Homo sapiens: one gene and its partner. The protein of the gene in region 2 interacts with the protein of the main gene of each other region in a pairwise test. Each region holds a gene or a part of one and is shown on either strand. Other genes may lie near its edges.

Region 1 (4,514 bases), on a different chromosome or scaffold from region 2:
TGACAATGCACACCACAGAAATCAGTAATACCAACTACCTTTACAGTAATGTCTCAGCTTTTTATATACTTCACTCTACACACACACATCACTGTTCCAGATGTCATGAGTACAGTTGCCAGTAAAATAAAGGATACCCAGAAAATTTGAATTTCAGGTGAAAAATGATTTTTTTTTGGTGTAAGTAGGTCCCAAATATTGTACAACATATACTTAAATACTAAAAAAGCATTTGTTGTTTATCTAAAATTCAAATTTAACTGGGTATCTTATATTTTTATTTGCTAAATCTGGTAACCCTAATTGTATAAAGGAGTTGCGATTACTTTAACCCTATAGTCCTTCAGTTTCCTATCAATAATACAAAAATACTCACTGGGGATAGTTACAGAGGCAAGAGCTCCCACCCAGCGCCTTCTGAACTTCTTCCTCTGATTGATGTACTGTAAGAGACTGTAGGACAGGTAAGTCAGCATGTGCAGAACAAGAAACCTTTACTGTTACAGGGATTCAAGGGCATAACGAGCCACAAGGAACACAAGATACAATTTCTTAATCCAGAAGCAGTTTAGCATTCCTGGAAATGTCCCACTTAATTTATCCATTTCTGTTAACCTCTAGAGTTAACCACCATGTAGCTCTAGTAGTGATTATGCCTACTATCAATATAAGAATTAGTGGGTTTGTGTATTTATTAAGCAGGGAATGAGATCTAGGAAGGCTGACAGTTGGTTTGGATTTTATGTAACTAAAAAGCCCAGGTCTGAGGTTCCAATTTAGGCTCCACCACTACCTACCTCTCTGACTCAAACATATAACACAGATCTTTCAACTCGGTTTCCTCATTTGTTGGTTTGTTTTTTAAAAGACAGGGTCTCCCTATGTTACCTAGGCTGGAGTGCAGTGGCTAGTCACAGGTGCAATCATAGCTCACTACAGCTATAACTTCTGACCTCAAGAGATCCTCCCACCCCAGCCTCCCAAGTAGCTGGGAGTACAGGCATGTGCCAAAGGACCTGGCTAGCCTCCTCATTTTTAAAATAAGAGGATTGTAACACATGATCTTCTGTGTTGACATCTACTTCTTTTTTTTTTTCTTTTTTTTTTTTTGAGACGGAGTCTCACTCTGTGCCCAGGCTGAAGTGCAGTGGCATGATCTCAGTTCACTGCAACCTCCGCTTCCTGGGCTCAAGCAATTCTTGTGCCTCAGCCTCCTGAGTAGCTGGAATTACTGGCTAATTTTTGTATTTTTAGTAGACACGGGGTTTCATCATGTTGGCCAGGCTGGTCTCTAAACTCCTGACCTCATATGATTCGCCCACCTTGGCCTCCCAAAGTGCTCAAATTACAGGCGTGAGCCACTGTGCCCAGCCGACATCTACTTCAAAATTCTAAGTGTAGATGTTGATGAGCACAAAGCTTCATCTGACCACAGATAAAATGGAGAGGATTCCTCTTTCTCCAGCGTAAGACACCACTGCCACATTTTAGAACTCAAACTCATGTATTCTACTCATTCTGCCTGGCAACTCCAGGACAGTTATTTTTGTGAACCTCAAATATCTCATCTTACAAATAGTATTTACTTTTTGGAAAGGAAAATATAATTTTAAAAGACAGTCTTAATTGTTCTTCAGTTTTTTAATACTAAAATGAAATATTCAGGGATCCTGTTGGGGCTTAGGAGAGGGTGGGAGGATTGGCTCCCTCTAACATACAATCCCCAGCAAAGCCATCAGTAAAAACACTGGAAGCTACACTGAGCCAGGTGGCTAGAAGTCAGAGTCTTATCCCAAGTAGTTACAGCTATCACCACCTCTGGGTCCCTTGTGAAAGTGTCTACATTCTCATTTGAACCAAGGCATGGGAATTCTTTGTACAAGACAGAGAAAGAGAAGTCTGCCCTCTCACTCCCCGTTGCTGCAGAAAGATAGGCAAAAGGAAGAGCCTTGTACCTTGAGGGAGGCACTAGGCTACTTTCACAACCATGATTCAATACTTTGAAGCATTTAATACTAACAAAGAGTCCAGTTTCACTCTTATTTTCTATTTCTTTCTTCATATAGACCATGACTTTTTGGTTTGCCCCATAGGTCATCATCAGCCTTCCTGTGATAGGGAATAAGCCAGCAAGGAACAGAACAAGCAATCCCCACTCTCCACAAAAACACGTCTCTGGAAACCAAAGCAAAGGGTAACTTCTTACCTGTCAATGACTAAGTTCCCGTCATTGTTGCGGATCCCTGCCCACATGTCCCACAGCTCACTCTCAGAGGGCCGAGTATACGGCCCAAAGACTGGGGTGAGACTGAAAGAGTCCAAAACGCAGGAAGATAAGTGTGAGGAGAACTCAGAATGTTCAATATGGCTGGAACCTCAGAGGCCATGCAGTCTGGGCCATGCAGTCTGACCCATAAGTGATTTATGAATTCCTTCTACTTCCCTGGCAAGCGGCCAACACCTTTGCTTTAAAATATCAAGCCTTAGGATTTGGCCCAGAATTGTAATGGCAGCAACTTTTCACGACATTGCTCTAGGCCACAATCTTTGACAGTGACACTTACCCTCGAGAGAATACAAAGAAGTTCATCAGTCGTGTGAGGATGGGTGACAGCACACCTCCATCTTTGAGTAGCTGGAGGGGAATAAGTGGAGGTAAAGCTCAAGAACCCAGAGGAAGATCCTCACCGGGGCAAAAGGTTTTATACTAGGAACTAAATCTTTAGCCAAATCTCCTGCTACTGAATGGTTTGGTACTTGGCATTTTGTTTTGCCTACCCGCATTCTTCTCTCAAGGAAGACAAATCTATTTCTAATTCCATCTAAGATTACTTTTCTACAATTCACTAAATCCCTAAAACTTTAACTCTGATATATTCAAGTTTAGAGTAGGATCCTAATTTGTTCAAACATCAAGCTTGTGACACAGATCTTTCCATAGCTGTAATTTCTCCAAATATTTGTTGATCTCTTATTCTTAGGATTGGTTTTGGGTTTACGTAGGGGCCACTGCCTCTGCTTTAGTTGCCTAAGAAGGGAAAAAGTAACTTCATTAATAGAAATTCACAAGGAAGAGGATTTAACTACTGCCAGTTACAGGAGCTATGGCCCTTAAAAGGTCCCAGCATTATTTACGTCAGTACAAATCCTAAAACTAAAGGTCTATCAGTGAAGTACCAACCTTTTGGAGAAGGAGTGGACGGTGAGTCTCAGGAAAGATACCTGTAGAAGAGACTTATCTTAGTCATTTACCTACAGCTTTAATTTTTTTTTTTTTATAGAGACGGGATCTCACTGGGTTGCCCAGCTGGTCTCGAGCTCAAGCAATCCTCTCACCTCAGCCTCCCAAAGTGCTGGGATTACAGGTGCAAGCCACCTCACCCAGCCTACCTACATTTAGGTCAAAGGCAAGCCCATTATCAGAAACTACCCACCCTATTCACCATCACCTCTGCAGCCTTTACTACCAAAACAGAATTACAAATAACAATTTAAAACTGTCATCTAATTACTTCTCCAGGAATTCTGTGTTTAACTGGTCACAATAAATCCCACTGGAATTACTTTTCCCATCTTAAAGATAGTGAAACGGGGAGAAAATATATGGTCATCCAAAATGCTGATAACCAGGCTCTGACTCCCCTTAGCATTTCCCCCTATCACTCAGAACACGAGGGTTAATGATTTGGGCTGTAAGAATAAAACAAGAAGTTTTTAAATAAGTATAGGTCCTTTAAAAACCCTAGAGTTTTTCCTTTTCCCTTTCTCTTCAGAGTCAGTGGAAGAAAGCCATGAGCATAAGTGATAAAGGGAGAGACGGATTTCTCTCCCAGTCTGCTCTTAAGGCGTTCAGGAGACATTTGGATATTCATGAACTTGCAAGCTGGCTACCCAGAAAGTCTAATCAGGGGTTCGGTATTTTCTAACTGAAACTTGGCACTGCCATCAGTTAGGAGTTGGGGAATCTCATACAGTTAAGTCCTCACTTAACATCAGGATAGGTTCTTGGAAACTTCGGCTTTAAGCAGAATGAGGTACAGCAGGTCCTTGAATAACATCCTTTCTTTAAAACATTGATGAGAAAAAAAATTGGTTCCATTATAACGTTTCATTTAAAGTCACAGTTTCCAAGAACCCATTGATGACATTAAGTAAGGATTTTCTACACTAACATCATAGTAGTATTAGAAACACTTGTGGCTTTTTTCTGTATCTTCAATCCTACACTCTCATAACCTATTGCAGTTGTTTCAGATATGGCAAACAGTCTTTACACTCCTCACTCCTTCTGATATAGCTGTTACTAGGTCCTCCACTAGAACTTGCTATCTAATGCATTGAAAAAGCACATGTGACTATAATGCAGCTTTTTATTGACTATGTAAGTAAAGTCACTATCCTTTGTAATGCTGTTTGTTTCTTTATTTTAAAACATTCTGAGAAAGGGTCCATAAATCTTGTCAGACCACCAAAGGAGTTGATGGCACAGAAGAGGTAGAGATCCCATAGTTTAA
Region 2 (6,112 bases):
TTTCACCTTAGGTGAAAAAAAGATTTTTGCCTAGGAGGTTGAGAAAGACAACTTTTACAAATATTGATACAGGCCCACTGTCCCTTCTGTCTCCTGAGCCCCCAGTGAGTCTCCTGCTGGCTAAGGTCTAGATACTCACTAGAAATCATTTTTTGGGAAATGTGTAGATGGATGGGACAGATGAGATTCTTTCAAAAACTATTGGTATGTCACAATTTTAAATGACAATCAGGATCTTTCTCTGGAAAAGTTTAGAAAGAAAATGGTGTCTCTGAAAACTTTACTTTTCTTCTTTTCAATTTCCAGAACTCCTCTTCCTTTCCTTCCATTTGCCTGGGCACAAACATAACTTAGGCCTTATGTAGATGCCTGCAGTTTTGGTCTAAGTCCTGCTGACTGGTGTCCAGAAAACTGTGAGGGGCAAACATCCTTTTTATTTAGCATTTTCTCTTCTTAACCTTCTACCCTTGGCCTCTTCCTTGCCCAGTGAGGTGAAGTGGTTGACTGTGGAGCCACTCCTGCTAACTGGAAGGAACTGGGCGTTGCCAGGCACTAAGCCAGGAACTTGAACTCAGCTGAGAAGTGGGATCTGGATAACTCCTGCCCCTCAGAGCAAGGCTGGCAACCAGCTCATGGGTGTTTGGCTACCTGGGGGAGGGATTTCTGCTCCTGACAACAGGCAGTTTGTTCAGTTCTTCCTGCCCTGATTCTTCTCCTGTTGCTTTTCACTGCATCCCTGAGCTCTTTGGTAACTCTACCTCTCACCAGTTTTTGCAATTTGCTGTAGACTTCAAAATCCTGGCTCTACCTCTCCTTCCTCTGTAGCTGTATTTCCCTGCAAAGTTGGAAGCCAACCAAGATCAAGTTTCCTTAACTCTTTTTCTTTCAGGGTCCTGGAGCTGAACTCTTCTGACCTACATACCAGAAAGGCTGTATCTTATCCTTCCTCACCAACATCTGAAAGGTTCCCCCAGCAGACTGATTTTAGGTCCCTTTCTGAACTAGAATCTGACAAAGACGCCACACAGTTTTCAGAAACTCTCACCATGCAACAGATTTTCACTAGCACACAGCTGGTCTGCATTTGGGGCCACCTCTGCTTTCTGAGTTCCAACACAATGGATTTTTGTGGTTGTCTACCTGTTTTTGCTCCATGCCCATGTCATCTTTCTCCTGTTGCTTTCTGTTTTCTGCACTTCTGCATTCTCCTCTCTTTTGGTAGAATTTTCTCTTTTCTTCCCTCTTTATGATGTTTTATTTTTTTCTACTCAGCCTGCCGCCTTCTCTTGTTCCTGCCACCCTTTCTGCTCTGGATTCAGCTAGAAGATTTTATGAGTGACTGAAGAGTTTCTAGACTGCTAATCCAGGGATAAACGCAATCTGTCTTTTTTCAGGGTTAGATTCCCAGCCCAGCCTACTTCTTAACTGCATGTGTAATCTTCATCCCCCTCCTACCGATGTTTCTGTGCCGCTTCATTAATCTGTAAAGATGACCCACCCTCTTTCCAGACAAGGAGGCATCTTTTCTCGTTTAGATTCCTCAGCTCTTTAGACTTCTCAGTCATTTAGCTATTCAAAAAATGACAGATGAAATCCGAGGCACAACAAAGTTATCATGAAAACCTTTTCCTTGAGAGCCCCATGTCTGATTGTTCATATTAGCTGTTATTTGGTGGAAAGAACGCTAGATTTTTAAGAAAAGTTCTGGTTTTGCCACATGGTAGCTGTGCAACCTTGGGCAAATCATTTACCTTCCTCGGGTTCTTAGCGTCCTCACTGGTAGAATGGGAATGCTTCACAAGGGCGTTAATGGAGATGAAACAATCAGCAGGAGAGCACTTTGTAGATTGCACTCGGATGGCAGGGTGAATGAGCAGGGATGGTGTCCTCATTTGTTTTTAAAGTCTTCAAAGGTAAAGGATTGTTAAGCATGGAGATTTGATTTGTTGTTTCTGCCAGGTCTCCTGGAAAGCTACAAACTAGAAGAAGTGCAGGAATCCTTGTGGTAACAGGGGTATCAGCTTTTTGTCCACAGAGGGTCCTAAGGAATTCCGACTCCCGTTTTGAAATTGTATCGAATCCAGTCCCAAGTGAATGTGGCCCTGGGGTGGTGCTTTGAGAAGTGGAATCACTGCAGGACAGTTTCAACATTCACTTCCCAGGCAAGCCTAAAGCCTGTTTTAAAAGGGCGTGTGGGGGCCAAACCCATAACAGTCTGGGACATTTCAGACTGGCACCACCTCCTCTGGCTGTTTCCGAGGCCATCTAGAGGCCAGAGCCCAGTCAGATTAACTGAAAGTAAAGAGAGGACTGCGGGAGTTTGGGACCTTTGTGCAGACGTGCTCATGCTCGTTCGTGTAGAGGGCGGGAGAGAGGAAAGGAAGGAGGGCATTGGGAGCTGAGGCCCCACCTTTCATTTCAGAAAAGTGCACAGGCAGAGCGGGCTGAGTCACAGGCACAGGTGAGGAACTCAACTCAAACTCCTCTCTCTGGGAAAACGCGGTGCTTGCTCCTCCCGGAGTGGCCTTGGCAGGGTGTTGGAGCCCTCGGTCTGCCCCGTCCGGTCTCTGGGGCCAAGGCTGGGTTTCCCTCATGTATGGCAAGAGCTCTACTCGTGCGGTGCTTCTTCTCCTTGGCATACAGCTCACAGGTAAGAGCCGGCGGGCTTCTCTCAGAGTTTCCTCCTTCACTGCTCACTCTATAAAGTTAGCTAATTGTCTTAGAAGTTGCAAGACTTTTGTTTGGGAGCCTGAGCCACAGATACAGTTTGTTTTACTTTGGGTTTTACTGAAACCAAAGTTGGTGGACTGTTTTTGGAGAACTGCTCTCGGACAAACAGGTTTAGGTGTGTTCAGCTGCCAGTGATTCAGGCACAGAGAGGGCTTTCTAATCTCAGGTTACATGCCATTTTTTTGTGTGTGGCTGTTCTCAACCTCCCACTGCTGGCAGGACTTGGCATTTGGATTTCTGTGTGTGGGTCTTGTCTGTGACTCTCAGCAACACCAGGAAAGTGGAGATTGTTAGAGAGAGACCTACTGTGATTTTGAAAGTGCCCCAACACACACATTCTAAATGTAAATATCAAGTTTAAAAAAATGCCACGTGGTACAAAGGTTCTAGGGGTGCAGGCAAACATAAGCTGTCTGGAGTTGATTAATTCAGTTTCTGCAATAGACTAGTAACAGTATGAAATCCACCTAAGGACCCATCTGGAAAACTTACCTGCTAGGAGACCACTTTACATACAACACATAATGCTTAACCTTAATACATAATGTAATGTCTAATCAATGTTATGATTCATTTTAATTTTTTGTTTATGCTTTCAATTCTATTTGCGGATGTTTGTAGTTTGTTATAACAGTTTTGAAGTCAGTACCACGAGGCGAGGCTTTAATGCTGTGGAGAAAGTAAAAGCACTGCGAAGGCTTGCTGTGTGGTAGTTTAGTTGTCACATGGAATGGGAGGGTCCAGGCTGCATACAGGTAGGAGTATGTAGATTCTGGGTGAAGTAAGTTTGGGAGATGGGGCATCTCAGTTTCACTTTACTTTAAGTCCTACTCAGATATTTATTTTGGAAGTGTCAGCAGAAGTTCTCACAATACTACATCCCCTGTTAACCCTTCTTTTTCTTCTTTTTCATTGCAGCTCTTTGGCCTATAGCAGCTGTGGAAATTTATACCTCCCGGGTGCTGGAGGCTGTTAATGGGACAGATGCTCGGTTAAAATGCACTTTCTCCAGCTTTGCCCCTGTGGGTGATGCTCTAACAGTGACCTGGAATTTTCGTCCTCTAGACGGGGGACCTGAGCAGTTTGTAAGTAGATTATCATCATTTTCCAGGGTACTCTTGTTTAGGGAAATAATAAGCCAGTCCATTTCTCCTTTCCCTTCCAGTATTTTTCTTAGCAGCAAGCACAAGGTTAAGCTCGGAAACAATTCTTGGGACAGAGACTGAGAGGCCGTTGAAGGGGAAAGCAAGTGACAGAGCTGCAGACAGGACAGTTGGGTTTGCTGGTGTTTCACTTCCGCTCCCACCATCTTGGCCTCCTTGCCTGGGTGCTGAGTAAGAAGACCTTTTGCCATTTCCCCTCTCTAGGTATTCTACTACCACATAGATCCCTTCCAACCCATGAGTGGGCGGTTTAAGGACCGGGTGTCTTGGGATGGGAATCCTGAGCGGTACGATGCCTCCATCCTTCTCTGGAAACTGCAGTTCGACGACAATGGGACATACACCTGCCAGGTGAAGAACCCACCTGATGTTGATGGGGTGATAGGGGAGATCCGGCTCAGCGTCGTGCACACTGGTAGGTTATGCAGGGAACAGTGGTTTTGGAAAGGATGAGAGCTTGTAGAAAAGAAAGGGGCAATCTTTGTTAAGGCTGAGAGAGAGGGACAATCTTTTGTGATGGATAGAGAGAGGGACTAGCCCTTCAGAACTGGGAGCCTCAGAGGGAGACCGAAGAGTTCTGGGGTAAAAAGAGAAAGGCTTTGTTTGGCTGTGGAAAGAAACAGAAAGTAAAGCAAAGGAACTCAGAGAATCCGTTACAAAAATGGCATTGAGATTGTGAAAGGGAGAGGGAGCAATTCTTTGATGAAAGGCTTACAACAGGTCTGTTCACTCACTCATTTATTCGAGATACTTATTGAGTACCTACTCTAATGCTAGGCACCGTCAAAAGTGCATGACATACACTATCTCATTGAATCCCCACACCACTCTAGGAGGCAGGTACTAATGATGGGAGCTAACACTTACTGAGTACTTCCCAAATGTCAGGGGCTTTACATGACACATTTTATTTAATCTTTACATATCTCATCAGTTTATTGTGCATTTAATGCCTCCCATCTTGCCAATGAGGAAACGAGGCTCACAGAGGTTAAGTCATTTGCCCTGAGTCACGTAGCTGATAAATGGAGTAACTTAGGACTCAAACCCAATCAACTTTGAATCTAAAACTGTGCTCTAAATTGGTGCATTGTATTGTCTGCATCCCTATAAAGGACAATCTGGAAAACCATGCCAAGCAACAAAGAGCAAAGTACACGAAACTTATGAATTGTAGATCTGGGTTTGAGTCATTGCTACCATTTACCAGCTATCAATAAGTCTTATTTTCCTCATCTGTAAAGTGAGAATAACACAGTAAGGATCACAGTGAGGATAAAATGAGATAATAAATGTGAATATGTCCCAACCTCTGAATTGTACTTAACAGCTACCATACATTGAGTGTTTATTTTGTACAGGCACAGCAAGGAACAACTTACATGAATTATTTTATTTTTTATTAAGAACTCAAGAAATGAATATCATTATCTCTGTTTATACATGAGGAAACTGAGGCTCAAAGAAGTTAATTACTTCAAATCACACAGCTAAGTATTTCAACCTAGTGCTCTCTGGTGTGTGCTCTTAACCAACACTACTCCAAACATATAAGCCTGTGCAGTGGTACGATTTCCTTTCATTCATAGTACAGTTTAAAACCATTTCTCAATGCCCCACCAATAGAGGGCTGTGTGACCTTGCAGAAGTCATTTGAGTATTGAAAGAAATAATGTAATGGTTTTGGACCTCAGTTTCTTCATCTGCACAATGAAGAGGTTAAACACACAAAAAATCAGTGGTTCTTAAATATATGTGGATAATTATTCTTTGAGAATCAAATAAAAGCCATGGCCCTGCTTCCCATAAAACAGTGGAGACATACAAAATGAGACTTGGATTCTGTGGGCTTGCAGACTACCTTCCATCCTCTTCCCCATCCTCCTTCATGGAGTCAAGGCTGGGAATCCTGGGCTAGACATTCTCTAATGTCCTTTCTGGCTCTGAGGGCTTATGGAAGTATAATCAGAAATAAAGCTAAAGGACAAGAAAACCAGGGTTCACAGACTCTAGTGTGGCTTAGGGGACCTTCCCTCTGGTTTCCCTTTTCCATCATTTATCCACTAGACTGTAGCTTCTGATTTACTTTCCTATCCTCTCAGTGGCATGAGCTCCTTGAAGGTGATGTCTTTTTTGGCTCAGCATTTCTATCACAGTGCCAGGAATGTAGTAGGCCCTTAATAAATCTGAATAAATAACTGACTGAGTGAAAGTGGTGA

What was found.
Region 1: the proteins of MPZL2 (region 2) and MEST interact in a two-hybrid assay, tested with the Homo sapiens proteins (one large-scale study listed by BioGRID and IntAct).

The regions. Positions count from the first base shown.
Region 1 is NC_000007.14:130,498,583-130,503,096, reverse strand, and holds part of MEST (mesoderm-specific transcript homolog protein), read right to left. Parts: intron 3,223-4,514; coding exon 3,182-3,222; intron 2,636-3,181; coding exon 2,565-2,635; intron 2,309-2,564; coding exon 2,207-2,308; intron 454-2,206; coding exon 377-453; intron 1-376.
Region 2 is NC_000011.10:118,260,634-118,266,745, reverse strand, and holds the start of MPZL2 (myelin protein zero-like protein 2 precursor), read left to right. Parts: upstream 1-2,448; 5' UTR 2,449-2,592; coding exon 2,593-2,650; intron 2,651-3,648; coding exon 3,649-3,815; intron 3,816-4,097; coding exon 4,098-4,308; intron 4,309-6,112. UniProt on the Homo sapiens protein: Mediates homophilic cell-cell adhesion.